Regions from separate parts of the Homo sapiens genome. Here regions 1 and 3 are each linked to region 2. The links come from fine-mapping of genetic effects on gene expression. A gene starts in region 2. Each other region holds a variant in brackets. All regions are shown on one strand. Distances are between the middles of the regions. Region 1 overlaps CAMKMT (calmodulin-lysine N-methyltransferase). Region 2 holds the start of CAMKMT (calmodulin-lysine N-methyltransferase). Region 3 overlaps CAMKMT (calmodulin-lysine N-methyltransferase).

The links. PIP is the estimated chance that this variant, and not a neighbour inherited with it, causes the effect.
Region 1: its variant is fine-mapped to the expression of CAMKMT in thyroid (GTEx, PIP 0.97).
Region 3: its variant is fine-mapped to the expression of CAMKMT in whole blood (TOPMed, PIP above 0.99).

What each region holds. Positions count from the first base shown.
Region 1 is chr2:44,582,975-44,594,518 of GRCh38, forward strand. All of the region lies in intron 3 of CAMKMT (calmodulin-lysine N-methyltransferase), which reads left to right. Among named protein-coding and RNA genes, the nearest start is that of CAMKMT, 230 kb to the left of the region's middle. RefSeq lists an enhancer at 6,248-6,947. The variant A/G (reference allele first, on the strand shown) is at 4,810.
Region 2 is chr2:44,357,351-44,367,237 of GRCh38, forward strand. CAMKMT (calmodulin-lysine N-methyltransferase) reads left to right here and starts at 4,597. Exons shown (of 11, transcript NM_024766.5): 1 at 4,597-4,795. The coding sequence starts at 4,658. It overlaps PREPL (prolyl endopeptidase like), which reads right to left and starts at 4,144. Exons shown (of 14, transcript NM_001171613.2): 1 at 4,030-4,144. RefSeq lists enhancers at 3,516-4,410, 3,787-4,986, 4,223-4,692, 4,411-5,304.
Region 3 is chr2:44,543,804-44,555,347 of GRCh38, forward strand. All of the region lies in intron 3 of CAMKMT (calmodulin-lysine N-methyltransferase), which reads left to right. Among named protein-coding and RNA genes, the nearest start is that of CAMKMT, 190 kb to the left of the region's middle. RefSeq lists an enhancer at 253-1,031 and a silencer at 9,687-9,981. The variant C/T (reference allele first, on the strand shown) is at 5,809.

The DNA.
Region 1 (11,544 bases), 230 kb after region 2:
CAACAAAAATGATGATCTTTTTTGGAAATTCGAATTGTTCTGATACTCCCCACAAAAAACCCTTAAAATACATATAATACATAATAGTCATTATTTGGGTATTGATCCTATTATACTGTTAGCTCTTCACATCTGACCTATTTTAGTATTTCCTGCATTGCTCACTACTATGCTTTGTGTATAGAAGGAGCTTTATTGATTAAAATGGACTGGATATTCATTCAACAAGTATCTATTGGATGCCTACTAGCTATGAGGCATGGTGGGAGCCATCAGATACAGTAATCAATGAGCAAGACACACACACAGTCCCTGCTCTCAAAGAGCTCATGATGAGAAAGATGTAAGACAGGCATTAAGTGACCAGTTACATAATTTTTAATGCAAGTTTTACCTTAATATTATATGCTTAAATAAAATTCAGGATGTTAGAGGATTCTTCAATAAGAAATCAGATCAAGTTTATGCTTCTCCAGGACAGGGACCTTTAAAAATCAACACTTAAAACTCAATTTTTTGCACTTAAAAATAAAATGAGGCTGAGGACCATGGCTCACCCTATAATCCCAGCACTTTGGGAGGCTGAGACAAGAAGGTTTCTTAAGACCAGGAGTTTGAGACCAGCTTAGGCTGGTCTCATAGGGAGATTCTGTCTCTACAAAAAATAAAAAAATAGCTGGGCATGGTGGCACACGCCTGTAGTCCTAGCTACTTGGGAGGGTGAGGGGGAAGGATGGCTTGAGCCCAGAAGTTCAAGGCTGCAGTGAGCTATGTTTGAGCCACAGCACCGCATCCTGGGCAACAGATCAAGACCCTGTCTCTGAAAAGAAGAAAGAAAGAAAAAAGAAGGAAGGAAGGAGACAAAAAATAAAATGCACACATTGCAAGTGTACATTTCAATGAATTTAGACAAGTGTATACAAATATCCATATGTGAGTGAATAGGTAGAGATGAGTATATATGTATGTATAAGCATATACATATATAACTGTATACATACCCACACATCCCCTCATTCAACATACAGGATATTTACATGACCCAGAAAGCTTCCTTTGTGCTCTTTCCTTGAGTACAACTCATCATTTTCCCCAGGCTCCTGGATTGTTTTTCGAGTTTCAGATAAATGAAATCACATAGTATGTACTCTGTGTCTGACTTCTTTTGCTCAGCCTGATGTTTCTGAGATCCATCCATGTTCTTATGTGTATCACTGGTGTTTTCCTTATTATTACTGATTAGCATTTTATTTTATAGATACACCACAATTTATTTATTCATTTATCCACTGACTGACAAAAATAAACCTTAATTTATTGCTCATAAGGTAAGATGAAAGAAGTGGTACATTTTTATTTATGAGCTGTGAAAATGTACTAGAGGACCTGGGATATTACCTTATATTCACCACATATGAATAGTGTTGGCCCACACTGAAGTAATTTTTATCCCCAAATGAGCTATAAAGACATGTCCCACCTGAAAAAACAGTTTCATTGATAATTTATGGATAATATAAAATGCTTCCTAAGTTGTTGAGTAGAATGCTGAACTAACAGGTAAAACACTAAAATTAATCTGATTCTGTGTATTGTGGGCTACTTACAGAATGCAACAATTATTTTTGGAATTCAAATTCAAGTCAAAAAATATTTATGAATGTCTGCTATACATAAAGCATGGTATTCAGTTCTATAAGGCAATAGAAGATAAGCAAGATGGAGTTCCTTCCTTGGAGGTCTAGTGGCCTAAAGTGGGAAATTGGGTGTCTGCATGAAATAATTAAAAAAAATAGTAGGCCGGGTGCGGTGGCTCACACCTGTAATCCCAGCACTTTGGGAGGCTGAAGCGGGTGGATCACGAGGTCAGGAGATCAAGACTATCCTGGCTAACGTGGTGAAACCCTGTCTCTACTAAAAATACAAAAAAATTATCCGGGCGTGGTGGTGGGCGCCTGTAGTCCCAGCTACTTGGGAGGCTGAGGCAGGAGAATGACATGAACCCACGAGGCGGAGGTTGCAGTGAGCCGAGATCGCACCACTGCACTCCAGCCTGGGTGACAGAGCGAGACTCCGTCTGAAAAAAAAAAAAATGTAAAAAGGCTTGTTGATTAAACCAAAGTAGTTTTAGTGCCCAGCTTTTTAAAAGGGGAGTAAATTATACCTCCTATAAGCCAGTCAAGTTAATTTTGATACCTTTAAAGATTCTGCACTAGATGAAATCATTGAACAATCAATTAGTCACCACATAGGAGAGCATGAAGCACTGGGTAGTCACTGTCTTGGCTTTGCAAAGAGCAAATTGTACCAGATCGATTTAATTTCCTTCATGAAGAGATTGACAGTTTATACATACATTTAGGAAGCAATTCAGCTGAACTTCAGAAAGGATTTTGATTCAGCCACACATGACATTTTAGCACTAACTCAAAGGATGTGGTGTAGGCCAGACCATATTCCTGTAGGAAGTGGCCTGCTTCTCTGGGGGGTTATATTTGAAAAGTGTTATGAAGGGCTTAGTGTCAACCATGAATCTTGTTTTATAAATACATATCCAAATGCTGGAGTTATTCTGAATTTCTGTGTCATGCATAAATAATTGAAAATAAACTCATATGTTGGCAAAGGAAAACCTTGATATGAGTACTCTGGAAGATTGTTATAGATTAAATGAAATGATCTTAAACCATAAAAGTGACAATTGTGTACTTTATGAAGGGCTGTAAGATCAAGTTCAAGTAACATGCTATGGTGATCCTACGCTTTACCAAAGATAGATGGAAGATGGGAACAGCTAGGCCATAAATAAGACAAGAGACTTAGGAGTCATAGTGGAATTCAATCCATATATTGCTGATCAATTCTGTGTTATTATTTATAAACAATGCATAATTTTAGAGTGTGTAAAGGGGAATATGATTTGCAAGCATATGGAGCCCAAAGGTCGTTACTCTGCAATAGTCAATTTTAATCACAACTCTCAGACTGTTCTAATTTTACACTACAGGGAAGCTAGAGGGTCCAGAGAAAAACATTCTAAATATACAAGAAGATAAATAAATGTTTCTTTAAAGTTCAGACTAGAGAAGAGAGACCACTCTTCAAATCGTACAGAGGTATGTACAGAGGTACGATTTGCCTATTCTGTTTGGAAACAGAATAGGCAGCCTTCTGCCCAAGGTGGCATAGGTGTTAAAGGCTTGGTTTAGTTTAAGGGTTCCAAAATCTGATAGGGTTTCAGGATCACTTGGATAGAATTTTTTGAAACACAGCTTTATTGAAGTATAATTGATTTGCTATACATTGCACGTATCTCAAGTGTACAATTTGATAAGTTTTAACATATGTATATATATATATATGTTAAAAGGATTCCCTATTTAATGAAACTATTACCACAATCAAAATAATGAACATATTTATCACCCCCAAAAGTTTTCCCCTGCTCTTTTGTAGTCCTTCCTACCCTTCCCTAGGCAAATATTATCTGCTTTCTCTCACTATAGATTCATTTTCATTTTCTAGCATTTATGTAAATAGAAGCAAACAAATTGTATTCTTTTTCATCAGGCTTCTTTCACTCAGCATAACTATTTTGAGCATGCTTTCACTCAGCATAATTATTTATATTTAATTCTTGCATATTGTAGTGTGTTTGAGTCTTCCATTCCTTTTTTATTGCTGAGTAGTATTCTGTTGTGTGCAGTTATATGCAGTATATTTATCCATTTATCCATTGATGGACATTTGGGTTGTTTCCAGCTTTGGGTTATTATATATAAAGCTGTTGTGACATTTATGTAGAATCTTTTATTTAGACATATGCTCTTATTTTTCTAGAGTAAATACATAGGAGTAGAAATGCTTAGATCATGTGGTAGGTATATGTTTAACTTTTAAAGAAACTGCCAAACTGTTTTCCAGAGGGGTGGTTCTATTTTACATTGCCAGCAGCAGCATGGGAAAGGTCTGTCAACACTTGGTTGGTGAGTCCTTTCCATTTTAGTCATTCTAGTAGATGTATTAGAATCTCATTGTGGTTTTAATTTAAACTTCTCAAATGATCATCTTTTCATTGCTTATTTGTCATCTATGTATCTTCTTTGGTTGAGTGTGTATTCAGGATTTTTTTTGCCCACTGTTAAATTTGATAATTTGTTTTCTTGTTATTGAATTTTGAGAATTCTTTATTCTGAATACAAGTCCTTTAGCAGATTCTGATGAGAACTGCATTGAATCAATAGCTTAATTTGGGAAGAAGTGACTTCTTAACAATACTGAGTCTTCTAATCAATGGACATGGCAGATTTTGCTGTTATTTTAAATTTTAAACTTCTTTCAGCAATATTTTGCAATTTTCAAAGTACAGGTTTTACATATCTTTTGTCAGATTTACCCCTAAGAATTGTATATTTTTTAATGCTATTGTAAATTTTATTTAAAAAATTTTTAGCTCTCCCTCTCCCTCCCCCTCCCCCTCCCCCTGTCCCTCTCCCTCTCCGTCTCCCTCTCTCTCCACGGTCTCCTTCCACGGTCTCCCTCTGATGCCGAGCCAAAGCTGGACGGTACTGCTGCCATCTCGGCTCACTGCAACCTCCCTGCCTGATTCTCCTGCCTCAGCCTGCCGAGTGCCTGCGATTGCAGGCGCGCGCCGCCACGCCTGACTGGTTTTCCTTTTTTTTTTTTGGTGGAGACGGGGTTTTGCTGTGTTGGCCGGGCTGGTCTCAGCTCCTGACCGCGAGTGATCCGCCAGCCTCGGCCTCCCGAGGTGCTGGGATTGCAGACGGAGTCTCGTTCACTCAGTGCTCA[A/G]TGGTGCCCAGGCTGGAGTGCAGTGGCGTGATCTCGGCTCGCTACAACCTCCACCTCCCAGCCGCCTGCCTTGGCCCCCCAAAGTGCCGAGATTGCAGCCTCTGCCCGGCCGCCACCCCGTCTGGGAAGTGAGGAGCGTCTCTGCCTGGTCCCCCATCGTCTGGGATATGAGGAGCCTCTCTGCCTGGCTGCCCAGTCTGGAAAGTGAGGAGCGTCTCTGCCCGGCCGCCATCCCATCTAGGAAGCGAGGAGCGCCTCTTCCCCGCCGCCCATCGTCTGAGATGTGGGGAGCGCCTCTGCCCCGCCGCCCTGTCTGGGATGTGAGGAGCACCTCTGCTGGGCCGCAACCCTGTCTGGGATGTGAGGAGCGCCTCTGCCCGGCCGCCCCGTCTGAGAAGTGAGGAAACCCTCTGCCTGGCAACCGCCCCGTCTGAGAAGTGAGGAGCCCCTCCGTCCGGCAGCCACCCCGTCTGGGAAGTGAGGAGCGTCTCCGCCCGGCAGCCACCCCGTCCGGGAGGGAGGGGGGGGGTCAGCCCCCCGCCCGGCCAGCCGCCCCGTCCGGGAGGGGAGGGGCTCCTCTGCCCGGCCGCGCCTACTGGGAAGTGAGGAGCCCCTCTGCCCGGCCAGCCGCCCCGTCCGGGAGGGGGGGGTCAGGCCCCTGCCCGGCCAGCCGCCCCGTCCGGAGGGAGGTGGGGGGGTCAGACTCCCTCCCGGCCGGCCGCCCCGTCCGGGAGGTGAGGGGCGCCTCTGCCCGGCCGCCCCTACCGGGAAGTGAGGACCCCTCTGCCCGGCCAGCCGCCCCGTCCAGGAGGGAGGTGGGGGGTCAGCCCCCCGCCCGGCCAGCCGCCCAGTCCGGGAGGGAGGTGGGGGGTCAGCCCCCCGCCCGGCCAGCCGCCCAGTCCGGGAGGGAGGTGGGGGGATCAGCCCCCCGCCTGGCCAGCCGCCCCGTCCGGGAGGTGAGGGGCGCCTCTGCCCGGCTGCCCCTACTGGGAAGTGAGGACCCCACTGCCCGGCCAGCCGCCCCGTCCGGGAGGGAGGTGGGGGGGGTCAGCCCCCCGCCCGGCCAGCCGCCCAGTCCGGGAGGGAGGTGGGGGGTCAGCCCCCGACCCGGCCATCCGCCCCGTCCGGGAGGGAGGTGGGGGGATCAGCCCCCCGCCTGGCCAGCCGCCCCGTCCGGGAGGTGAGGGGCGCCTCTGCCCGGCTGCCCATTCTGGGAGGGAGGTGGGGGGGTCAGCCCCCCGCCCGGCCGGCCGCCCCATCCGGGAGGTGAGGGGCGCCTCTGCCCGGCCGCCCCTACTGGGAAGTGAGGAGCCCCTCTGCCTGGCGAGCCGCCCCGTCTGGGAGGGTGGTGGGGGGGTCAGCCCCCCGCCTGGCCAGCCGCCCTATCCAGGAGGTGAGGGGCGCCTCTGCCCGGCCGCCCCTACTGGGAAGTGAGGAGCCCCTCTGCCTGGCCAGCCGCCCCGTCCGGGAGGGTGGTGGGGGGGTCAGCCCCCCGCCTGGCCAGCCGCCCCATCCGGGAGGTGAGGGGCGCTTCTGCCCGGCCGCCCCTACTGGGAAGTGAGGAGCCCCTCTGCCCGGCCACGACCCCGTCTGGGAGGTGTGCCCAGCGGCTCATTGGGGATGGGCCATGATGACAATGGCGGTTTTGTGGAATAGAAAGGCGGGAAGGGTGGGGAAAAAATTGAGAAATCGGATGGTTGCCGGGTCTGTGTGGATAGAAGTAGACATGGGAGACTTTTCATTTTGTTCTGTACTAAGAAAAATTCTTCTGCCTTGGGATCCTGTTGATCTGTGACCTTATCCCCAACCCTGTGCTCTCTGAAACATGTGCTGTGTCCACTCAGGGTTACATGGATTAAAGGCGGTGCAAGATGTGCTTTGTTAAACAGATGCTTGAAGTCAGCATGCTCGTTAAGAGTCGTGTCACCACTCCCTAATCTCAAGTACCCAGGGACACAAACACTGCGGAAGGCCGCAGGGTCCTCTGCCTAGGAAAACCAGAGACCTTTGTTCACTTGTTTATCTGCTGACCTTCCCTCCACTATTGTCCTATGACCCTGCCAAATCCCCCTCTGCGAGAAACACCCAAGAATGATCAATAAAAAAAAAAAAGAAAAAAAAAAAAGAACGAAAAAAAAAAAATTTTAATTTCCAATAGTTTGTTGCTGGTATATAGAAATACAACTGTTATTTGTGTATTGACCTTGTGTCCTGCAACCTCACTCAACATACTTGTTAGTTCTAGTCAGTTTTCTGTACATTCCATCAAATTTTCCACATGGACGGTCATGTTGTCTGCTAATATTGACATTCCTTTCCCATCTAGATGCCTTTTATTTCTTTTCTTCCCATACTGCATTGGCTAGAACCTCTAGTATAGTGTTTAATAGAAGCAGCAACAGAGAATATCTATGTCTATGGGGGATATTGGTCTGTAGTCTTCTCTTTGTCTTTGTCTGGTTTTTGTATTGGAGTAATGCTTTCTTCATTAAGTAAGTCAGAAAATATTCTTCCTTTTCAGTTTTCTCAAAGAGTTTGAGAAAGAATTGGTGTTATTTCTCCTTCAATATTTGGTAGAATTCACCAGTAAGCCAGCTAGGCCTAGAATTTTCTTTGTGGGAAAGTTTTTAAACTACAAATTTCTGACTTTTTAATGATTGCCATTCTATCTGGCGTGAGATGGTATCTCATTGTGGTTTTGATTTGCATTTCTCTGATGGCCAGTGATGGTGAGCATTTTTTCATGTGTTTTTTGGCTGCATAAATGTCTTCCTTTGAGAAGTGTCTGTTCATGTCCTTCACCCACTTTTTGATGGGGTTGTTTGTTTTTTTCTTGCAAATTTGAGTTCATTGTATATTCTGGATATTAGCCCTTTGTCAGATGAGTAGGTTGTGAAAATTTTCTCCCATTTTATGGGTTGCCTGTTCACTCTGATGGTAGTTTCTTTTGCTGTGCAGAAGCTCTTTAGTTTAATGAGATCCCATTTGTCAATTTTGGCTTTTGTTGCCATTGCTTTTGGTGTTTTAGACATGAAGTCCTTGCCCATGCCTATGTCCTGAATGGTAATGCCTAGGTTTTCTTCTAGGGTTTTTATGGTTTTAGGTCTAACGTTTAAGTCTTTAATCCATCTTGAATTAATTTTTGTATAAGGTGTAAGGAAGGGATCCAGTTTCAGCTTTCTACATATGGCTAGCCAGTTTTCCCAGCACCATTTATTAAATAGGGAGTCCTTTCCCCATTGCTTATTTTTCTCAGGTTTGTCAAAGATCAGATAGTTGTAGATATGTGGCGTTATTTCTGAGGGCTGTGTCCTGTTCCATTGATCTATATCTCTGTTTTGGTACCAGTACCGTGCTGTTTTGGTTACTGTAGCCTTGTAGTATAGTTTGAAGTCAGGTAGTGTGATGCCTCCAGCTTTGTTCTTTTGGCTTAGGATTGACTTGGCAATGTGGGCTCTTTTTTGGTTCCATATGAACTTTAAAGTAGTTTTTTCCAATTCTGTGAAGAAAGTCATTGGTAGCTTGATGGGGTTGGCATTGAATCTATAAATTACCTTGGGCAGTATGACCATTTTCACGATATTGATTCTTCCTACCCATGAGCATGGAATGTTCTTCCATTTGTTTGTATCCTCTTTTATTTCATTGAGCAGTGGTTTGTAGTTCTCCTTGAAGAGGTCCTTCACGTCCCTTGTAAGTTGGATTCCTAGGTATTTTATTCTCTTTGAAGCAATTGTGAATGGGAGTTCACTCATGATTTGGCTCTCTGTTTGTCTGTTATTGGTGCTGGAGAGGATGTGGAGAAATAGGAACACTTTTACACTGTTGGTGGGACTGTAAACTAGTTCAACCATTGTGGAAGTCAGTGTGGCGATTCCTCAGGGATCTAGAACTAGAAATACCATTTGACCCAGCCATCCCATTACTGGGTATATACCCAAAGGACTATAAATCATGCTGCTATAAAGACACATGCACACGTATGTTTATTGCGGCACTATTCACAATAGTAAAGACTTGGAACCAACCCAAATGTCCAACAGTGATAGACTGGATTAAGAAAATGTGGCACATATACACCATGGAATACTATGCAGCCATAAAAAATGATGAGTTCATGTCCTTTGTAGGAACATGGATGAAATTGGAAATCATCATTCTCAGTAAAGTATCACAAGAACAAAAAACCAAACACCGCATATTCTCACTCATAGGTGGGAATTGAGCAATGAGAACACATGGACACAGGAAGGGGAACATCACACTCTGGGGACTGTTGTGGGGTGGGGGGAAGGGGGAGGGATAGCATTAGGAGATACACCTAATGCTAAATGACGAGTTAATGGGTGCAGCACACCAGCATGGCACATGTATACATATGTAACTAACCTGAATATTGTGCACATGTACCCTAAAACTTAAAGTATAATAATAATAATAAATAAATAAATAAACTACGAATTCATTTTTTTTATGGGTACTGCAATATTCAGGTTATTTCTTCTTGAATAATCTTTGATAGTTGGTGTCTTTCAAAGAACTTGTGCCTTCCATTTCATCTAAGTTGTCAAACTTACTGGCATAATGTTATTTATAATTTTCCTTTATTATCTTTTTACCATCTATAGAATCTATAGTGATGCCATCTTTCTTATTTCTTACATTGGTCATTTTTGTCTTTTCTATAGCTGTCTTGGTTATCAGATTAATGGTCCTCAGTGCTTGGGTTCAAGTAACCCTTATTTTACTTAATAATGGCCCCAAAGTGCAAGACCAACGATGCTGGCATATTGTTATAATTGTTCTGTTTTATTATGTTATTATTGTTAATCTCTTATACTATGCCTAATTTTTAAAGTAAACTTTATCATAGGTATGTAAGTATAGGAAAAAACATAGTATATACAGGGTTCAGTCCTATCTGCGATTTCAGGCATCCACTAGGACCTTGGCTTGTATCCCCCAAGGATAAGGGAGGACTACTGTACTTTGTGATCAGAGAACATATTTTGCATGGCTTAAATCTTTTTAAGTGTATTGTTTTGTGGCCTAGAATATGGTCTAGCTTGGTAAAGCTTCAACTGGCATTTCAGAATACTGTATTCAGCTCTATTGGGTGGTGTGTTCTATAAATGTCAATTAAGTTGGTTGGTAATGTTATTCAAGCCTTCTATGTCCTTACTGGTTTCTGTATACTTGTTATATCAATTATAACATGTTAAAATCTCTGACTATAATGATAAGTATTTATAATAAATATTCTTGAGTTTTGTTTTGTGAAGCAGATGTGTTACTGGGAAACAGCTTGATCCTTTCAGATCTTGCTTTTAAGATTTGTTAGGTGGGACCAGCAATATTTATGTAGGGCAAATTTTTCCACACCACTGAGGCAAAACTCTTTTGTGTACTCAACTCAATGTTCAATGCATTAAGAAGTTTTTCTTGTCAGACTGGCAGAAACATGCACAATTTCCAGTTCTTTGTGAACACTGGATACTATTTCCTTTAATCCTTTCTGATAGGTCTTTCCCTGGCCTCCTGTAGTTTTCTCAGATACATGTGCTTATCAATACTCTGATGAATACTCAAAGGGAGGCATTTTTCAGATATGCTGGGTTCTAACTCTTTGCAGCTCTGTACTCTCTGATACTCTGTCCTTTGAACTCTAGCCACATTGTTTTTTCCAGACTTTCAACTCTGGTACTCTGCAGGGCTCCATTTGGGTTCCCTGTCCCAATGCCACAGCCCGGAATCTCTCTTAAACTTGAGATAATTGTTGGACTCACTCACCTCATTTGTATTCTGTCTCCCAGGGATAACTGTCCTTCCTGCCTCCTGCCCACTGTCTTGAATACCATAGTTTCATTTATTATATTTGATTTGTAGTTGTTTTAGGTGAGGGAGTAAATCTAGTCACTGTTGCTCCAACTTGAATAAAAGCAGAAGTCTCCCTGGGGAATTTTTGAAAAAGACAACTTCCTTTTTTTTTTTTTTTTTGAGGCGGAATTTTGATCTTTTTGCCCAGGCTGGAGTGCAATGGCGTGATCTCAGCTCACCACAACCTCTGCCTCCCGGGTTCAAGCGATTCTCCTGCCTCAGCCTCCCAAGTAGCTGGGACTACAGGCATGTACCACCACGCCTGGCTAATTTGGTATTTTTAGTAGGGATGGGGTTTCTCTGTGTTGGTCAGGCTGGTCTCGAACTCCCCACCTCAGGTGATCTGCCCACCTCAGCCTCCAAAAGTGCTGGGATTACAGGCGTGAGCCACCATGCCTGGCAATTGCTACAAAGAGAATAAAATACCTAGGAATACAACTTACAAGGGTTGTGAAGGACCTCTGCAAGGAGAACTACAAATCACTGCTCAAGGAAATGAGAGGACACAAACAAATGGAAAAACATTCCATGCTCATGGATAGGAAGAGTCAATATTGTGAAAATGGCCATACTGCCCGAAGTAATTTATAAATTCAATGCTATCCCCATCAAGCTACCATTGACTTTCTTCACAGAATTGGAAAAAACTACTTTAAATTTCATATGGAACCAAAAAAGAGCCCGTATAGCCAAGACAATCCTAAGCAAAAAGAACAAAGCTGGAAGCATCACGCTACCTGACTTCAAACTACGCTACAAGGCTGCAGTAACCAAAACAGCATGGTACTGGTACCAAAACAGATATATAGACCAATGGAACAAAACAGAGGCCTCAGAAATAACACCACACATCTAAAA
Region 2 (9,887 bases):
CTGAAAGAAGGAAATGTGCATTCTTCTCTACAGGTGTTTTCACAGCTGCCGGGGCATCTTTATAAAGCTTCCCCAGGTCTCAGTGATAAAGACCATGGCTTTTACATTACATCATTTCTCATAGAGGGAATGGTTGATACATGACATGTGACAGCAGGATTACTTTATCAGGTAAAGGAATTACTAAATGAACTATTAATACTTGGAGTTATTGAGTCAGGTTAAAGTTTCCAGGTAGTGGGAATCTATAAAAGAGAACGGAAAAGTTGCTTCAGGAACAAATGGAGGGAAGAAATAGTCAACCTTCTGTTTAGAATGTGAGCTAATATCACAGCTGTTACTCTGATGGTAATTCCTGTCTACTATTTATAAACTAAGTGTTAAGACAAAGTACGACATGACAAAATGTTCTAAACACAATGCAAAATAAAATAACCTAAAGGTCCAAAATTTAGTTCAATAGGTGAAATTAAAAATTTTATCTTTCTGAAGTAGGAAAGATGTACAAAAAACACAAAAATGAAATAAAAAGAAGTTATAAAGAATTTCTAAATGAGTAAAGAAAGTACTAAACTAAGGCAAGACACTACAAAAAGGAAAAGAATTTCAAAGACTAAAACATAAACAGTAAAAGTCTAGGAAGACTAGGGGGCTAACATATAAAATGTTAAAAGCAAAAGAGACACACACAACACCTAAATAGGTATCAGCTAAGATAGCGGCAAAAATTGAACAAAAACTAGAAAAACTGAGAAAAATTAGATTGAAAAGATAGTTTCTAAAATGAGAAGAATCTGCCCAAGTGTCCATCAATTACAGGAATGGATAAACAAAATGTGGTTTATACATACAAAGGAATATTATTCAACTATAAAAAGAAATGAAGTTATGATACATGCATACAACACAGATGAACTTTGAAAGCCACTGAATTGCATACTTTAAAATGGATCAAGTGGAAAACTTTGTTATACATATATTTTACCCGAAGAAAGGAGGAAGCCAAAACAGACTAAAAGAAAAATCAGTATGCGACAAAACCAGAAATTAAAATAAAAAAAATATTAAAATCATAAATTTGTGAAACTATTGCAAGAATACCACCCCCAAATATCATTAAGGAACCTAAGGAACATAAGAAGTAAAAGGTAGGAGAGGGATGTCAAAGCAGCAGCAGCACAAATAGATCATTTAATCCTACTTACTGTAGGATGACCATATAATTTACCATTCTAACCAGGACACTTTTGAGAGGAAAGGGGACACTATTAATAATTACACAGGGACAACAGGTGTAGGCTGGAGCTGTGCCAGGCAAAAGTGGTTATGTGGTTACTCTCTATATAAGGGCAATCAGGTCCTTAAGGTTGAGTTCACGCCCACAGCTTGGGGTCTGGCAGAAGTACAATACTCTGACAGTGTCTTCCTGAATGACTCAAGTGGTCAAAAACGCAAGATTATTTTTCATTTTTTTACAGAGAAATAAAATACAATTCATGGCCTTTACTGAAGTTTACTGATTTGTGATTCATAAAACAATTAGCGTATCATTAGATTTTATTAAGAGCTATAATTTAGTGTTCTAGGAAATTTAGAAGGCCGAATTATACTTTGAAATGCACTGGCAGGCATACTAAGGAAGTCCTGAGGTGAATCATTTTTTATAAACCTACATTTTTATATATTACATTAGAGCCCTATAAATATATGTATACACTTTTTTTTTTTTTTTTTTTTTCAGACAGAGTCTCCCTGTCACCCAGGCTGGAGTGCTGTGGTGCGATCTCAGCTCACCGCAACCTCTGCCTCCTGGGTTCAAGAGATTCTCTGCCTCAGCCTCCCAAGTAGCTGGGATTACAGGTGGGTGCCATGACGCCTAGCTAACTTTTGTATTTTTAGTAGAGACAGGGTTTTACCATGTTGGCCAGGCTGGTCTCGAACTCCTGACCTCAGGTGATCTGCCTGCCTCGATGTATATACTCTTTTATACTTACTTTTGACTAGAGACAATTGAGACTTGAAAATTAGAAAAATCAAGTTAGAATTACTGAGAAAATTAGTAGCTCTGATATTCTACCCATTCTTTATTTTTAAATTAAAATTAATCTTAATGACCTACAAATAGGTTAACTTAAACAGTCCATACCTTACATGAGAAGCTCCGACTTGGGATGTTTCTTGCTAACTCTGATATCTTGGGTTTATTCTGAAGACACTTGGTTAGGTGATATTTTTTCAATTTTATTCTATTGTAACAATGATCAGCGAAGTTATAGTGATTCAAATGCTGTTTCTGCATGCATTTTCCAAGGTGAGGAATACTATACTTCAAAGCTTGGAGAAATAATTTGGTCTTCTGCTGCATGATATCAAAGTCCCTGGTTTATGCTCCTTTTGGGGCTGCCAGCACACGAATGATTTTATAGGTATGATTACAGAGTAGTGGGTTCTCAGAGTAACTAAGATCAGCAGTTCTCATCCCTCCTTTTCAGGGCCATGCCCCACTTAGGTTATGAATAACTTCAGACAGCTGATAACTTAGGCTAACTAAATCTAAAAACCTGTGTAAGTTAAAGTTTCATTCAAATCATAATTCTTGGCAGATGTGACTTAAATGTCTCATTTGTAAAGTTAATCCTATCAGGCTCAAACTATGCAGCACTGACTCTGGCACACATAGGGGTTAAACTAAAACAAAAAACAAAACAAGAAACAAAATATAAATTTGCAAATAAGTACACAGACTTAATGGGGTATCTCAGGAACTCAGGGCTGTAAAAGGTAAAAAGCCCTTTGGTCTTACATAATTATGAACGTATCTTTGGTATATATGTGGAAGATAAACTGGAAAAGCCTAATTATTTAATAAAGGTGGGGGAGGGAAGATTAATTATTGTTGAGTGTTAACTAACTGCCAGGTGCTTTTATCTTGTTTGTCTAATTTAAATTTTATATGGACTTAATAAAGTAGATATTACCATGCACATTTTACAGGTTGCCAAACTGTGGCTGTGGGAGGTTCTAAGCAACTGTTCCAGGTCACTTGTACAGTAAGCTGTATAGCAAAAAATCCAATTTGGTTCGGTTCCAAATACTGGACATACTCAACTTCGGATTTTTAATGTTAAAAAGGTATTTAGCGCTTTAATTAAAAACAACAAAAAACCCCTGCAAGATGCACAAATAAAATGTAAGGCCATCTCTGGTTTGTCAGGAGGTAGCTTTTATTAACCTTGATTGCTAATAAGTAGTTAAGAGTCAGAGAGACCTGGGTTGAGGTCTTAGCTCCTACACTTAACTGTGTCTCCGGGCCTCAGTTTCTTCATCTGCAAAAATGAAATGACACCATTTACCTTCTAGGGTTGTTGTTGTAAAGACAAAATGAGACAGCTTAACATTAAGACCATACAGTGCCTGGCACATAGTGACCACTCAATAAATGGCAGTTGCTATTATTTACGACAGGAATAATCTAGGTATGTTGCACACCGCTGAATGTCATTATGGAAGTCTTCCACAAAATGCCCCCTGGTATCAAAGGTAGAATGCTGCGTCAAATTTACCATAGATCAGATGCGCTACGACGCCCCCGCCCCCCTTAATCCCTTTCCATGTCGCAGCAAAATAATGGGCGATTGGGGGTAGGGGAGCAACACTAGTTTACTAGCCGACACTAGTAAAAAAAGGGGAAAAAAGACCCGAATAACAAGGACCTGCAAAGGTCCTACATCACCACGTTCCCACAGCCTTTATCCATCCATCTTTCATCCCCAAGAAGACAGTATGCAAGGCTAGGATGGGGGTGGGGTAGATAAATGGGTGTTCTCAGGAGAACCTATTCGTTTACCCCGTGCAACTCTCCACCCCAGGGATGAGGCGATCTGAATGCAACAGGGAGAGGGACCAGGTGACACGCACGCAGTGCCGGGACATTAGTCAAAAAGCGAGGACCTGGGGACTGAGGGGTGGGTGGCTGGGCGGGGGGAGAAAGGGGAGAAGGAAAGAGACCAGCACACCCCCCATACATACGCAAATTGAGAGAATCAGTCCGGCTCTGGACACAAACCAGTGAAGGCAGGCCGGAGAACCTGAAGCTCTCAGAGGGGAGCAGGTGTCACCGCAGGCAAGTCCAGCCGAAGTCTGCGTTCCGCAGCCCACAGAACGACAACTTACCCAGAGCCGCCTAGAGCTGGTTTGCAGCACGCCAATCTACGTAACCTCAATCTAGCACGAGCAACAGGCAGATTTCGCCATCTTTGTTGTGGTCAAGGAGTCTTCTTGGGTTCCTGGGTTCTTTAGTCTCGAAATATATAAGACTTTTCGTTCTTCGCTAGTCTTCTGAGCTCGAGATGAAGCACAGAAGGCTAAAACAATGAGGGACAGCGTTCCAGTAGCCCTGCCACAGCTCTCTCATCCTCTGGTCCGCCCTCACTCAAGATGGCTACCAGCAAGAATGGTGCAATGGCGTGACAGCTCGGCCCTGGTTGCCAAGGAGATGCGAGTACCGGAAATGCGGAATTCGGGGAGAGCGCGCATGCCTGGTCCGGTGGAGGGAGGGTGCCGGGCGTCACAGGTCCTGACAGGGAAGAAGTTGGCAGGTCCTGGCAGGGGACGAGCTGCGGCGGTGGCACCTCCGGGTGTGGAAGGCTCCAGTGAGATGGAGTCGCGAGTCGCGGACGCTGGGACCGGCGAGACCGCGCGAGCAGCGGGCGGGAGTCCGGCAGTTGGCTGCACCACTCGGGGGCCCGTAGTCTCGGCGCCCCTGGGAGCCGCCCGGTGGAAGCTCCTGCGGCAGGTAAGGGAGAACCTGCTCGCCTCACCTTTGCCTCTGGTCACTCCTCTCTCACGTACCGGGGGAGCGACTGTTCGCAGTTCTTTCCTCTTGGCAGCTCTGGGAGACCCTTCTCAGTTTGCCGGGAGCCACCTGCGAAGCTCCCCCTCGCTTCACCTAAGCGTCCCATCCAAGAGGAGGAATCATGTGGGGTTGGGTGGGGAGCGGGACAGCCAAGGCTGAGCTCCTGGGAAACTCAGATCGAAGTAGAAGAACCCCTTCTAGACATTTTTGTGCGTCTGGGGGACTTTTCCCCTTCTCGCCAGTCTCTGGTGCGCCCGCCGCTCCCCACTGCTCTTTTCCTGCTTCTGTTTTGCCTCCTTCCCCAGTTTCTTCTAGCTTAACTCCCAGCCTGGTTCGAGTTACCGATATTCGTCTGCACCCTCTGGCCCCGTCTTTTGCCCAGCGTGGTTGACTATGCCGGGACTGAGACACGGCATGCGTTCCCTCGGCATCTTCCGTACAGCGGAGCGTGCAAGGAGTAGGAAAAGCTGATACCCTCTCTCACTGAGGTCTCAAAGTTAAATGATTATCTTGTAGTTTGTAGTGATCAGCGAGATTCTCCGTGTCCAAGGTGGGCTAGTCAAAGTGTGTTCGTTTTTGAATGATGGTATCTTCTGGTACTTCAAAGTTTCTGCTGTTACTTACAACTCCACTCGTGCAAGCTTGACGGAAGTTCTGATTTATGATCACTCACATTCTTCGCTCACTTCTTGAAGTGAAGTCTGGTTATTGTTTTTGCATAGCAGTGTTATGCCTCTGCCTGAAGTTTTCTGCCGAAAACTTTACTCAGGAGGACATTTTTCCATTTCTGACAGTTGTGTTTGGAAAAGAGTTTCCCAGCTATTGCCACTTTACTTGAGATTGTGCTTTTAGTATTTTGGGGATCACTTTGTTTGCAGTTGCCTTGAGTCACCTTTTCATACAGTGGTCTTTTAGTGCTTTTAGAGTTATGAGTTAAGTAGATCATCAGAGTTAATTAAGATTTATTTGCTGATACATTGACAGTCTTTCCAGACCAGTAATGATCTGGTTTTGCTATTGTTACAAATGGTATTACAGGATAAGAAAATGCATGTCCTCACAGATCATCATAGGAAGTATCTATAATAAAGTAAATATCTAATTTTTTTTAATAGTGACCACTGAAATGAGATCTGGCGTGAGCTGGGGAGAGTGGACTCAACCCCCCTTCCCCCCTCCTTTTTTTTTGAAATGGAGTTTCCCTCTTGTTGCCCAGGCTGGACTGCAATGGCTGCCATCTCCGCTCACCACAACCTCCGCCTCTAGGGTTCAAATGATTCTCCTTCCTCAGTCTCCCCAGTAGCTGGGATTACAGGCATGCACCACCACGCCTGGCTAATTTTTTTTTTTTTTAAGTAGAGACGGGGTTTCTCCATGTTTGTCAAGCTGGTCTCGAACTCCCCACCTCAGGTGATCCACCCACCTCGGCTTCCCAAAGTACTGGGATTACAGGCATGAGCCACCGTGCCCGGCAACCCCCTTCTTTTTTTTTTTTTTTTTTCGATACAGAGCCTTACTGTGTTGCCCAGACGTGAGTGCAATGGCGCAATCTCGGCTCACTGCAGCCTCCGCCTCCCTGGTTCAAGCAATTCTCCCGTACTCAGCCTTCCGAATAGCTGGGATTACAGGTGCTCGCCATTACGCCCAGCTAATTTTTGTGTTTTTAGTAGAGACGGAGTTTCGCCATGTTGGCCAGGCTGGTCTCAAACTCCTGACCTCAGGTGATTCACTTGCCTCGCCTCCCGAAGTGCTGGGATTACAGGTATCAGCCACCATGCCTGCCACGCCCACCGCCCCCACCCTTCCTTTTTTTTTTTTTTTTTTTTTTAAATAAGATAGAGTCTTGCTTGTTGCCCAGGCAGGTAACTCCTGGGCTCAAGCAATCCTCCCACCTCAGCCTCCTGAGTAGTTGGAATTACAGGGGTATGCCATGATACCTGGCTTTCAGTGATTCTCAGTATAGTAAAAACTACAGCACTTATGTTCATTCTAAATTGCGGTCTAAATGAAAACAGTGACAAGTTTCAGCTGTGGCTGTTACATGAAGTCCCCACACGTTCTGACATCGAAACTTTTGGTATATATCTGCCTGCTTATAGTCTTTTTATCTTCTCTACTTGGTGAATGATTGTTCATTCTTCACACTTCCATTTCAAACTACTCTTCTGTGAAGCCACCCCTAATGCCTCTGGGCTAAGTTAGACCCTCAGCCAACTCTACCAATGAGCCCTTTATATTATTTTATGATCATGTGATCAGGGTCTCTTTTTCTTACTAGAATGGGCATTCACCCTGGGAAAAGGTGATGTTTTATTAATTTACATCCTCTGCACCTAGCACAGGGCCTGGTTAATTGATTTTTAGTAGATGTTGTTCAGTGTCTGTGGAAAGCCTGAGAGTAAGGACAGTCTTTAAGTGGCGCATAGCACCTAGTCCTTAGTGTATTTTATCAGTAAGCTATTGCTAAGTAAGAACCGCAACATCACAGTGGCATACAACAGTTAGTATTTATTTTGTTGGTGCATCTGGGGGCCACCTGGGAGCTGACCGACATAGGCTGTAGTCATCTGGGTATCTCTATGATGCACATGTGGTCCATATGTCTCTAATCTTTGGACTAGTGGGCTGAAGTCCTCATGGTGATAGCAGAGGTATAAGAGCAAGCCCAACCACAGAGACACATTTTAAACCCCTGCTCACATCATGTGTTTATTTCCTATTGGCCAAAGTAAGATATTTGGCAAAGGCCAAATTCAAGGGGCAGGGAAATACAACTCCTTCCTTGGAGGTGACAAAGAGGAAGTGAATATTTTTCTATTACAATTTAATCGATCACATATATTAAACATTTACAAGCTCTTAGTAAATGTATTTCAAATGAATGAACCATTCCTATCCTATATGCATCTAGTACTGGAAAACTATAAGGAATCTAAGCAGTGCTAGAGATATGTGACTCCTTTTCTCGCTCGTGGGACATCTGAAGAACATCTGCTCTGTCTACTTGTTTTTTCCTTTAAAATTCTGTCTTTCCATTACCCTATAGAGCTCCAAGGCTGTCTCATGGCCTTTTACTTTATGTTAACTATTCAGTATTTTCTGTGTTTTGTAATTAACAAAACATAGGTTTTGAGAGAAAACCTGGTTGACCTAGTGCATCATTTGGTTCCAGGTTACATGGTAAGTTGCCAAGATTTGAGTCAAGCGAGTACTTAAATTAGATGAGGTCTGGAAGATGATGAATCAATATCAGTAGAGGTTATGGATGTTGTTCTGTTTTCCTCTTTGTTGAGTCTCATTACATGTTGACGAAGATGGCCACTGGCAACTCCGGGCTTTCATATCCATCCAGCTAGTAATCCAGAAGAAATAACTCTTTTCCCCAACATCCAAATCATTTCCTCCAAAGGACTCTGATAGGCCAAGGTTAGACCAATTGCTGTGTCCAGAATGGGGCACTTTGGCTAACCTGGGTTATCAGCCTACCCTGTGGCAGGTAAGGTAACAACCTCACTAGAATTACATAGAGTGAGAGAGGGGCAGTTCCTAAAAGGAGGCAATGTAGGGCAGATGAAAAAGTAGCAATGACTGTTACACACGTATTTACAAACCACCTACCGAATGAAAAATGTTGCCTAGAGGTATGAATACTTGGCTGAAGAATCTGATTATGGAATATTTCACAGTTCAGTTTATATCAAAGCAGGATGCTTTTTCCTGGATTGGCTAATTGAAAAAGTTGGTTAAGAGGTGAATTGTAATAACGATACATATTCCAAGTGAAGTTATTTTCTGAGTGTCAAATCTTTCTAGGTATTTGTAATTCTTCAAATGTTTATAGTTGGCTTCCAACACCTAAACTGATAGTAAACTTTTAAGCAACTTACCTTTATCTTTCTCAAACATTCAACTTGGCTTTTAGGGTAACGTTAACTCCCTTTCAGCTCTATGTTATTAGTTTTGTAATATTTAATTAATGACAAGTTAAATATTTAATTGATGACAAATTTAATTTGTTATTTTGAAGAATAAGTAGAATAAAAAGGTTTGTGAAGAAGCACAGTTAACTTGGCAAGCATACAACTTGACACTGGCGTCAGATGCATCTAAGTCTTGATCCAGTCCTAGGTCTACTACCACGTACTGGATGCTCTTCACTGATCTATATCAAGTATTTAGATTGTTTTGGAATGTATTTTTGTTTCACCTTTATTCTTGACTTTGTTTTATATGCTTACTTTTGCTTTCTCTTTTTCTTCATAAATGTTATCTTGTTGTATTGTTCATCTTTTTAAGCCATCTTGAATCCTTTTGGTAATAGTTGTCATATAAGTCTTCCATAAGTTGTTGGAATTTGGACAACTTTTTACTTTCTAACCTCAGTTTTCTCTTCACTTAATGGGAGTGATAACACATACTTTGGAAGGTTGTTTTGAGTATTTGAGATAATATTTGTAAAATGTTTAGCTTGGAATCTGCCACATCATAGACTCAAAATAAATAGCAGCTATTGTTATTATTATTATTATTATTTGAGACAAAGTCTCACTCCATCATCCAGGCTGAAGTGCAGCAGTGTGATCTCGGCTCACTGCAACCTCCATGTCCTGGGTTCAAACGATTCTTGTGCCTTAGTCTTCTGAGTAGCTGGGACTACAGGTGCACACCACCACGCCTGGCTAATTTTTGTATTTTTTTTGGCAGGGATGGGGTTTTGCCATGTTGCCCAGGCAGGTCTCGAACTCCTGAGCTCAAGCAATCTGCCCACCTCAGCCTCCCAAAGTGCTGGGATTACACGTGTGAGCCACCATGCCCGGCCTGTTGCTGTGTCTTAAAAACGGGAAACACTATAGCTTCCGCATGTAAAGGATAAGGTTTTCTGGTTTTTACTTGCATCCCTGAGCATAGATTCATATATAAATATAGGGATTCAGAATTCTGTTAACTGTCCTTTTAACTGTAGGGTAACTGGAATTGGCCATTTTTGTTGAGTGGATCCCAAATGTCAGTATCTACAGGTCTTTTTTTCTTG
Region 3 (11,544 bases), 190 kb after region 2:
CCTCACTTATGAAAGCCAGAATACTATTTTAGTAGCATTTATCTATTTAACTTTCATTGTCTGTTGACAGATGTATTTAGAAAATCAAAGTTAATGTAGGATAACCTGGTCGAGTTAGCATTTATTTTAGTTTCTGTTCAGAAGGTAGCAAATATTGGTTTAACCAAAGCTCAGGGGCTAAGATAGGTCAAATGAAGTTTATGAGATTCCATACACTTTCTGGACAAAAATCTACTATACTACTCTTGGAAAAATAATTTGAAAAAGACGTTTTTGAGTAGGCTTAATGTTCTTAATTTAGTGCTCCCCAAAAGAGGAGTATGAGAAAAACATTTAAATTTTGGTATTATGTTAAATACATCCCATGTTTATACCTAAAATAGTCAATGAAATTCTTTTCCTGTGTCAATGATTATTTCAGTGATTACCTGGACATTTGGGAAAGTTAGCAATTAATGCCAAGGGTTATTTATTTTGTCACTGGTTCAGAAATGCCTGTTTATACAAATCAAGACTTCCAGCAGCTTGAGCCTTCTTTTTCTTTTTGAGCTGGTAGAGTCAATGGTTAAAGGACAAAAATTCTACAATTGATTGAGTTACAAATGAATACAGTGTTAATTAAGCCAGGCCATTGTCTTTAAAGTGGAGTCAGTACATTGGAAGTCAGATTTCTCTTGCTGTTTAGTCAAACTGCCTAAGGCTGCAACTGCTTCCTTATTAGGTTACTAGCTTTGGGGAGATGTCATTGTTTGCTGCTGTAGCTAGGCTTTCTGTTAAAAATCACAGCATGAGGCTTAAACTGCTGCAACCATTATCCAGTGCTAACATGTCACTAAAGGTCTGCTAATAGAACAAGAGGAAAAATATCAATCTTTAATTTTAGATCAGCCAAGTAATCTGTAGCACCTGTTCATTTTCTCTCATCAACCCATTTAAAACAAGACTAGAGTGATTCTTTGATGGGCAGGCTATAAGATTCTAATATTTTTTGCCTTTTCTTATCAGAGGAAAATTTAGACTTTAAGACTAAAGAATAGAAAAAATAAACTGTAAGTACATTTCCTTTAAAAATTTTATTTAAGAGGTAGAATTATCTGATGTAATCCAATGATGACTAGGTTATTATAAATAATTTTTTAAAGAATAATTTTGTTTAATTTTCTGAAATTTACTTTTTAGATAAAAGCTAATCAATGAGGACATAATACACTGGTCCAAACAGCAAATTTTCCATAGAGAGCAGAAACTCTTTCAAGCTTTAGATGACAACCAACTTACATTTACCTATTCAGATATAATAAACAGAATTAGAACTTAGCAGCTGCTAGCTTTCCCTTACATAGACCTCAAGGCTCTGTCACGGTATGGGGCAAAATTAAAGAAAACATTGTGTCCTGCTCTTAGGAGAGGTGAAAGGATTGCTTCTGCAAACCACCATTAGCAATGCGAGTTCCAAAACATTCCCAGTGATGCTAGACCAAGTACTACACTTAGCAAATAAACATATAATAAGAGAAACATAAAACTTAGTAAACCTTTACAGTCCCCAAGTATATCCATCTTTTATTTAAATTAAAAAATCAGTTACTACTCTGAGCCTGTCTCTTTACTAGGCATTGAGAACATCAAAATGAGTCATAATACATGTACCCTGCTCTTCCTCGTGGAACTTATGGTCTATTATTGATCCTCTGTATAAAACCTTTCTCAGAGCTAGTACACATGCAGTTTTTGTTTTGTTTTGTTTTGTTTTTGTTTTTGTTTTTTTTGCTGGTGAGGAAGTTGAGATACAGGGAGGTTGTGACTTGTCTATGGTCACAAGATAAGTGGCAGAGTAAGGATTAGAAGAATCCGGTGTTCTAACTTCTAGACTCGGTCTTTTTTTTTTTTTTTTTAACTATATCAAGATGAAGATACCGGAGGGGAGAAGGGGATTATGAAGGCACAGTTTTAATGGACACCTTGTAGAATAATACAAGAGTGGAGTGACAGTATGGGAGCCTTTGATTAAAAAATTAATTCTAATGATGAAAATCTAGAAGCCAGATATAATTTAAGTATCTTCAAAAGGAGGGATCATCAACTCATTTAAAACAAGTCTACAGTGATCCTTTGATGAACAAGCTATAAGATTCTAATATTTTTTGCCTTCTCTTATCAGAGGAAAATTTAGACTTTAAGTAAGACTAAAGAATAGAAAAAATAAACTGTAAGTAAATTTCTCTTAAAAATTTTATGTAAGAGGTAAGATTAGCAAATTGCATCTTTTATATAGAGAGTTATCTTTTGTCTATAACATTCATCAGTATCTGATCATATTCTTTTGGATCTGGCTATCTTAGACTGCTAGGACACACACACACACACACACACACACACACACACACACACACACACACATACATGCACATACCCCTATACCTATGACCAATTTCACATCTAAGTTCTGACATTTAGCCCTAAAATCTCCTTCTTAGCCCAAAGCCGCTGTTGGCCTTGTCCTGGAAATTCCAACTTTTAGCATTTTCTTCAGTGGTCACTTGTGTGATGCATCTCTCCTGAGGTCTACATCAGAGCAGGCTCAGCCTCATTCTGCCACGACCATTTCCATCATCACAAGTACTTGATCTGTTTCACGTTTTATGGAATCGATAAATCTCATCCCTAAAGAGTCCAGCAGGCCTTTGATTCCTGACCTGACATTTGCTAATGCTATTCCTGATGACCTGCCACTACGGATCTGCAGCACTGCACTCTTGTGTTTGACAACACTCATAATATGAATCAATATTCAGCATTCAGTAAGTGAGCTGGGGAGTCATTTCACTGCTGCAAAAGGCTGCGTTGCCCCTGGGCAGCTGTCAGAAATGGGTAGTTATTAATAGCCCTCTCTTTTCACTTAGCATAGTCAGTAGGGGTCAGGCATGAAATGATTTAATCAGTTTATGATATCTGTGACAGAGAGCACTTAAAATGTAATCACAAAATTTAGGTAGAAGTGTCCCTGGGCTGTTGTAATGTTTTTCTCACTTAATTTTCCCTAATGCTGATACAGTGTAGTGCACACTGAGAGACTGACCATACAACAAAATGACATATGAGTTGGTGTTGGTTTCATTTCTCTCTCAGTAAAGTTGCCTTTTTAGTGGGGGTTTTTACTTCACAACATAGACCACAAATCCTAAGGGTAAGTGAGTATAAATCCCTTGGGTTGGCTTGCTTGGCTCTGCAAAATGTGTCCAAAATGTGTTGAGGGGTCCTGAGGGTGGGGAAGAACTTGATTGAGCAGAAAAATATCAAGCTTAGGTTTTTTGTTATTGTTATTTTCTGTATCCTCAAAGAAAATGTTAATGTGCTAGGATTCAGAGGACATTTTCCAGGTACACAAACCTAGTTGAACAATATCAGTAGTCTTATTGGGTCCTCTAGCAGTCACTTGGAAATAAGCTCAGCAGAAGTAAAAGTAAAAACTGTTCTATGCTGATAGTTGGAAAGACAGTACCTCAGCAGGGATTGGTCAAGCTGGGAATTCAGGGTTCAAGTAAGAAGAGTGGCTCTAAAAAATGTTAGATGATGCTGACGTGGTGGTGCATGCCTGTGGGGCTACTCCGAAGGCCGAGGCAGGAGGATCACCTGAGACCGGGAACTTGAGGCTGTAGTGCACCATGATCATGTCTGTGAATAGTCACTGCACTCCAGCCTGGGCAACATAGTAAGACCTCATCTCTAAAAAACAAGAAAGATATGATAGGTGAAAGATGACCCTAAACTTAAAAGGCAGTGAAAAAAATCATCACAGGTGTAAAAGTTAGCAATGCATGGAACAAGATTAGTACAATGTTTAGGTCTTGGGGTCTGGAATACCCAGGTTCAAATGCCATCTCTGTACTATCATTTCCTCATTTGAAATAATACCCATTTCATAGGGTTACTATGAGAATTAAATACGAGCTTATGTAATATATCTGACACATAGGAGAAGTTCAAATAACATTACTTCTCTCTTTCCTTATCTCTAACGGCCTAAATTTGGTTAATTATAATGCAAAAGGGAGGGCAAGTTTTGAGCTGAAGCTGCAGTGGAAAGGGATCATCAAGACAGCTGTCCTTGAGTGTCCCTCCTGCAGTACTGTCTCTCATTGGCTGCTTGCCCATCAGAGGCACACTGATCACTCTAAATATCCTGGTAGAGAGTGGGGAAAAACTTGGCCCTGGACATCTTCCTGCAGATTTAGGGAGACAGAAGAAAGAAAAAAGCACAGAATATGCTGAGTTCAGATTTGTGATTCTAATGTTAATTAATGCTTGCCTTCAAATGGGCTTAGTTCTTTTATTCAACAAGTATTTACTTAGCATCCTACTATGTGCTTTCTATGTGCTGGCAAAATTTATGGGAACAACCAGCTCGAAGTCCCCTCCTGCCTCATTCCTGACTCTGTTGGGTATCATAGGATGAACATTAGACAAAGACATACGCCTTCTGTGTTTCTCTGTGAATCCAGAGCCTTAAAAGCTCTGGCATTGTCTAAGACCCACTTATCTCTAAGTGCTTTGGTTTGTACTGGTTCTTTATCTTTCTAAGCTAGAAAGCCATGGTCTCACATGAAACCACAAGCCCTGATAACAGGTGTCTCCTGTGGTAGGCAGAATTCTAAAATGGCCCCCAAGATTCCCGGCCCTGCTGTACACACACCCTCTCCCAGGTATTTAGCCATACGTTATCTAGATACTGCTGTGGAAGGATTTTGCAGATGTAGTTAAGGTCCCAAATCAGTTGACCATAAAGCAGTGACATTATCTGAGTGGATCTGACCTAATGACATAACCCCTTTAAATCTGGGTCTAGAGGTCAGAGACGGGAAGTCAGAGACGAAGCAGGAGAAGGATTTGCTGGCTTGAAGATGGAGGCAGCTACGTAGCAAGGAATTTTTTTAGCTGAGAGTGGCCCTTGTTTGCCAGCCAGAGAGGAAATGGGGACCTCAATTCTACAGCTACAAGGAGCTGAATTTTGCCAGGAAGAATGAGGTTGGAAGCAGAACTTTTTTAGAGCCTCCAGATGAGAACTCAATCTGGTTGCCACTGTTATTTCAGCCTTGTGATTCCCTGAGCAGAAAACTCAACCATGCCATACCAGACTTCTGACCTAAAGAGTTGTGAACTGATAAATGAGTGATGGTTTAAGCTGCTAAATTTCTGGTGATTTGTTATGCACCGATAAAAAACTAATACATCTTGTTTACATCTTGCCTGTTCCACATTTGTTTCCTCCGAGATCAGATGGAAACATGATCCCCTTTTTCTGTTTTCAAATCTTATGTCTCTTTCTGGTACATCGGCTAAGCTCTTCTTTCTGTTGGAGAAAAATGTTCTATATTCATTTGCCAAAAGAGATGATTGCAATCTTCTGAATCTGGTGAATGCCTGAGGCTCTCTCACCAGTTTACCAGCTCTGTCCACTTCTTTGGGCTCTCTTTGGTGACTAATCACTCAAGCATCCTCCTTCCCAACCCCTATGGGAATTCTCTGCCAGATTACTATGATTATAGTTTTATAATCCTAAAAAAAAAGACCTGAAAATGTACAGAGTGACAAACATAATTCACCCCAAGGGAAGAGAAGAACCTCTCTCACACAGCAGGAAGACTCAGTTTTTCCTGTCCAGTCACTTGCCACAATGTCTTGAACTGAAAACCACAATTACTTTTGCACCAACCTAAAATGTATATATAATTTTTTTTCTTTTTTTCTTAGACACAGGGTCTCACTCTGTTGCCCAGGCTGGAGTGCAGTGGTGATCATAACTCAGTG[C/T]AGCCTCAAACTCCTGAACTGCTCATATATTTAAGAAACACTTCGTGGCAGAAGATTATGATACTCTTGCTTATTTATTGGCTTAAGGATTAAGGATCCCCAAAGTCTCAGACTTCAGTAAGTAAGCCTATGTCCTACATGATGTCTGTAAACTCCACTCCCTCTTAGACTTACATCCTAGAACAAAGACATAGGGGGCTTCTTCAACTGTGGCCATACATTTTTGTCCCAGACCCAGCTTCATTGTGTTAAAAGTCTTGGTGTTATGTGAAGAGTGTCTTTATCCATCCTTCCGTCATTCAGTGTAGAGTTCTAGGATTTTTGAAATAGGATAGATTCATTCTGACCTGCCTGAATTGAAAGTCATATTAAAATGTGGGCAGGGAATCGGGAAGGGAAATGTGGAGAAAAGGAATGTGTGTGTAGTCATATTCACAAAAATACCTTGATAAAGAGCCAATACCAGCACAAAGAACATCAGCATATATGTTTTTAAGACTGACAGCCACTGGGCGTGGTGATTCACATTTATAATCCCATCACTCTGGGAGGCTGAGGTGGGTGGATTGCTTGAGCCCAGGAGTTTGAGACCAACCAGGGCAACATAGGGAGACCCCGTTTCTACAAATCATTAAAAAAATTAGGCAGGTCTGGTGACACATGACTGTAGTCCCAGCTACTCTAGAGGCTGAGGCTTAAGCCTGAGAGGTTGAGGATTCAGTGACCTATGGTAGTGCCACTGCACTCCAGCCTGGGTGACAGAGTGAGACTCTGTCTCAAAAAAAGAAAAAAAAAAAGAAAGAAAAAAGACTGACAGTCATGTAAGATCACATTTACATATAAAATGCATATATGTAACATTTCTTATATGAAGATGAATAGTAAAGGAATTAAATCAATTTAATTTCTACTAGTATAGAATTAAATGTCTACTATAAAGTTATCACTAAGCTGAGCTCTTAGGGAGACACTGAACCCAAGGAATTTATAGGCTCCGTCTATCTTTTTTCTATTCCATGTGGTGTGAGAGAAGTCAGTTACCAAGATCTATTGACCATCTATCCACTCTTTTCTGAACCAAAGGCATACTCTAAAAGCTTGCAGTGACTGGATGAGTCAAATTCTGTCACTTCCTCTTTACAAGTTGTTTTGTAATGATTAAACCAGTGATACATTGTATCATACATTGATTGAGGAGGCATTTAATACTTAAAGTGAGAACTGTTGCAAGTTATCAAAGGAACTGTGGGTGTTCTGTATATTCTCTGTATATCTTCATAGAGACTGCCGAGAATGGGGCTTGAGACTAAAGTTTTAAACAACTCATTCATGAATGTCCATCTACCTAAACTTCTGTACACAATATATGACAACTTGCAAGACCTGGAAACCAGATGTTTTTAAAATTGTTTTCTTCAGTGTTTTATTGTAAAAAGTCTCATCTATTCTACCTAGCCACATAATTCCAGGTGGTGTTCTAGGGTTCAGGGTAGAGTACGTGGCAGTAATGTAGTCACAAGATTATGTAGTCCTGTTTAATGGGGCAGAAACCCACATCTGCAAGATCTTTATTCTCTCAGATTGCTGAGACAAAGAACTGGATACGGGGCTTTACACAGTGTCATGCAGTGCGTGGGCATGCCTTCTATGTCACATTAATTGTATTTATAAATTTACTCCAGAAACCTGAGCATGAAGACTCTAAATTCTCACTGTTCAGGTGACTCTAAGCAGATGGCTTATGCATAAGATTGGAAGGATTGGAAGTTCTAAAGGGAATTGTGCGTGTTGCCCTTTGTGTTCCATAGGCCATTACCACTGGGCCTTGAAACTCCCTGGAGTTTTATGCATAAGAAAGAAAGATGTCAAATTTGCCTTCTTGAGTAGTTTTATCAAGGTCACCTATGATCTGTATTTAACATTTGGTTGCAAGGGAGAGTTCCCAACAAAAAGATGCTGGAACACAGCCAGTCCATTAGCATTGAGGCCATGCTTTCTTCAAAACATCCTGGGCTCTATACCAAAGTATGCTTTTTAAATGGCAGCAGTGGAAAAGATTTGTCGAAAACTCATGTCACTGTAGATGAATTTGCTCTGAAGAATAGAGATCATTATCAGCCCAGTAAATTTTGAGACATCAGAGTGAAGCACTGTACTAAGTGCTTTTGTACATGTCACTTCACTTCATCTTCATAATAGTCCTGAGAATCACATAATTATTATTCTCATTTTACAGAAGAGAAAACTGAGTCCTATATATGACATACCTTGTATACCTATGGAGAGCTTTCCTTTGTTGGCAATATTATACCAGAAACAGTTTAGCTTACTCAGGGCGAAGTGTAATATGGGTTTCTAACATATAGATTTTTTTTTAGTTTTCATTTTTTAATAGATTTAGAGGGGGACAAGTGCAGTTTTGTTACATGGACATATTGTGTAGTAGTGAAATCTGGGCGTTGAATGTAAGCATCACTTGAATAGTGTACATTGTTTTACCCATTAGGTGATTTCTCATCTCTCATCCTCCCCTCCGAGTCTCCAGTGTCTATTATTCCACTCTATGCCCATAGGTATGCATTATTTAGCTCCCGTTTGTGAGTGAGAACACTAACCTACAGTTTGAATGTATGTTCACAGTGATACACAATGATATTTCGATTGTACTCATTATTACTTTTGAGTCTTTTAAATAAAATTCAGAAGAGAATTTTATTTAAAAGACTGTGGCTTTCTCATTAACAAGACAGGCAAACTGAACCAATTCATTTACCTATCTAGTGCTTGACATGGAGGATTTAAGAAATCCTAGAAAAGATTTCTAAAATGGAAGATTTTACTTGGTGATCTTTACAGTCAATAACAACTCCAAAATCCTGGAATCTTATGCAGATAGAGTCCTTTCATACAAAATACTGTGGCAGTGCTCAGAATCTGGTGTGAGGTCTGAGGCAACCACTCACCTCCATATTTTCCATTTATTGAGCACTTACGTTTCAGGAACCATGCTAAGCGATTTACATACATCATCTCATTTAATTCTTACAACTGTTCTGCTAATATTATTTCCATTTTACATATGAGGAAACTGAGATACAGAGAGGCTTAAGTAATTTGTCCAAAGTCATATGGTATGTGATGGTAGAGCTGAGATGTGAAAACCAGCCTGTTTGACCATCAAGCTAGCCTCTTACCATTGGGCTATTTACTTTATTTATTTATTCAGCCTTAGGGACAGGATAAGTTTATGTCATTTAGTCAGGACCCTTTCCCCTGATAATCTTTGGACAAATCAGCAATAATTTTAAAAGAAAGAGACAAATATTTTAGAGGAAGGGAATAGGATAATTGGAAAGAAACTAAGAGGGTGCTGTGAAAGTATACATAAGGCGAAAGGAGGCTTAGCCAAAGAGTTCAAAGTCAGAATGCTCCCTTGTCACAGAAATTAAGTACTAGATGTGTGCTATGATTTAAATTTTCATGGCACATTAAAGTCTTTTGTTGAAAAACCTGTAACATCTTCAGCAAGTAGTAGACACTATTTAAGTACCTGTAATTGACCAATACGATACTATACTACTGGTGTTCTGTTCACTGTTGACCCAGAAGGCCACATGTGTAGATAGCATATGAACCGTCTTCATTTTATACTCTGTTCTCTCATACAAGTGCTCTAAAGTGACTTTTAATCTCTGTTATATATAGTTTTATCCATTAAGAGGATATGACATCTTTTCATTCAGAGTGAGACACTTTTTTTTTTTTTTTTGGGACAGTCTCGCTCTGTCACCCAGGCTGGAGTGCAGTAGCGCAATCTTGGCTTACTGTAACCTCCACCTCCTGGGTTCAGGTGATTCTTGTGTCTAAGACTCCTGAGTAGCTGCGACTATAGGCATGGGCCACCACACCCCACTAATTTTTGTGCTTTTAATAGAGATGGGGTTTTGCCATATTGGCCAGGCTGATCTCGAATTCCTGGCCTCAAGCCATCTACCCAACTCAGCTTCCCAAAGTGCTAGAATTACAGTTGTGAGACACCGTACTTGGCCACGTTTTTGTTGTTGTTGTTAGAAATGTGCTCTGAGACTGGCATTTCCTCTCTGTGACTAATCAGCATTAGATGGGAAGATAGTCAACTGTTGCATTCTTTTTCTATTCTAATTATTGTCATGGCTCTGGTAGTATTTCTAACTATAATTTTACACTAAAATAAAAAGAATAATTTATCAAATGAAGCTATTTTAGTGAATTTAAAATGTATGACATCCCTCTCATAAGGTAGCTTTGCTTGGTTACTTTTATTGTTTTGTTGAGTATTCTGATTCTATAAAACATAACATTTAAAAAAGAGGTTGTAGGCATTAATATAATATTAAGTGACTTGCAAATAAAGAAGTATGGAGACTCTTAGGAGGTGGGTGCCTATTTATCTCTTTAAAGAACACAGTTTTAGAAATGTTTGCTTTATCCATTATGACCTTTTGCTAACTCATTCATTCATTCAGTAGACATTTAGTGTCTGTATGTTCAGTCGGAGTTCCTGGGGTAAGAATTAGACATTCAAAGACAACTAAGATAGAGTTTATACCTTTGAGAAGCTGACTGTTTTGTGAGGGAGATAGACAAGGGAGGAGGAAAATCCAGTAGTTAGTTAAACATTATGATAGAGGTATGCACTGGATGGTGTGTGAGCACAGAAATCTTCCTAGTAACCCAGATTGCCTAGGTTCAAATCCTGGCTTTGCCACTTGTTGACTATGGGTCTTGGACAAGTTACTTGACCTTTCTGTGCCTCATTTTTCATACAGCCCTTAGAACAGTACTTGATACACAATAAATATTCGCCGGGCACAGTGGCTCATGCCTGTAATCCTGACAGTTCAGGAGGCCAAGACAGAAGGATTGTGTGAAACCTGGAGTTCAAGACCAGCCTGGGCAGCATAGTGAGACCCTGTTCCTACAAAAATTTAAAAAATTACTTGAGCATAGTAGTACATGCCTATAGTCCCAGTTACTTGGGAGTCTGAGGTGGGAGGATCACTTGAGCCCAGGAAGTCAAGATCAGCCTTGGCAACATAGTTAGACCTTGTCTCTATAAAATAAAAAATAAAAAAATTACCCAGGTGTGGTGGCATATGTCTGTAGGCCCAGCTATTTGGGAGGCTGAGGTGGGAGAATCGCTTGAGCCCAGGAGGTCAAGGCTGCAGTGAACCATGATCATACCCTGCACTCCGGCCCGAGTGACAGAGTGAGACTGTCCTCAAAATAAAATGAAATGAAAACACAATAAATACTGCATTAGGATCTGTTAAATAAGATATTTAAAGCAGAATGGATGAATAGGAATTAACCAGATGAAGGGCGTTCTGGTTGGGGTGGGAGTAGGGAAGATAGGATGGTTTTGAGGAAACTGCATATATGGAAGGCCTTGGCAAGAGGGATCTCGGAACTGTTGAAAAGGGTGGAAAGGGGGCAGCAGCAAAAGAATAAACTGGAGAAGTAAGCAGAAACCATATTACACAGTCGTGTCTGAAAACATGGCAATAATTTACATTATTCATTCAGGTTCATATTTTTACCATATTTTCATGGAGGATGGATTGGAGTAGGGAAACCAGTCAGAGGCTGTTGACATGGTTCAGATAAAAACTGATTGAGACCTTAAACTAGGGGTATTGGTGGTAGGGATAGAGAAGAAGTGAATTGATTAGAAAGCTGTTGAAAGTGTGGGATAAG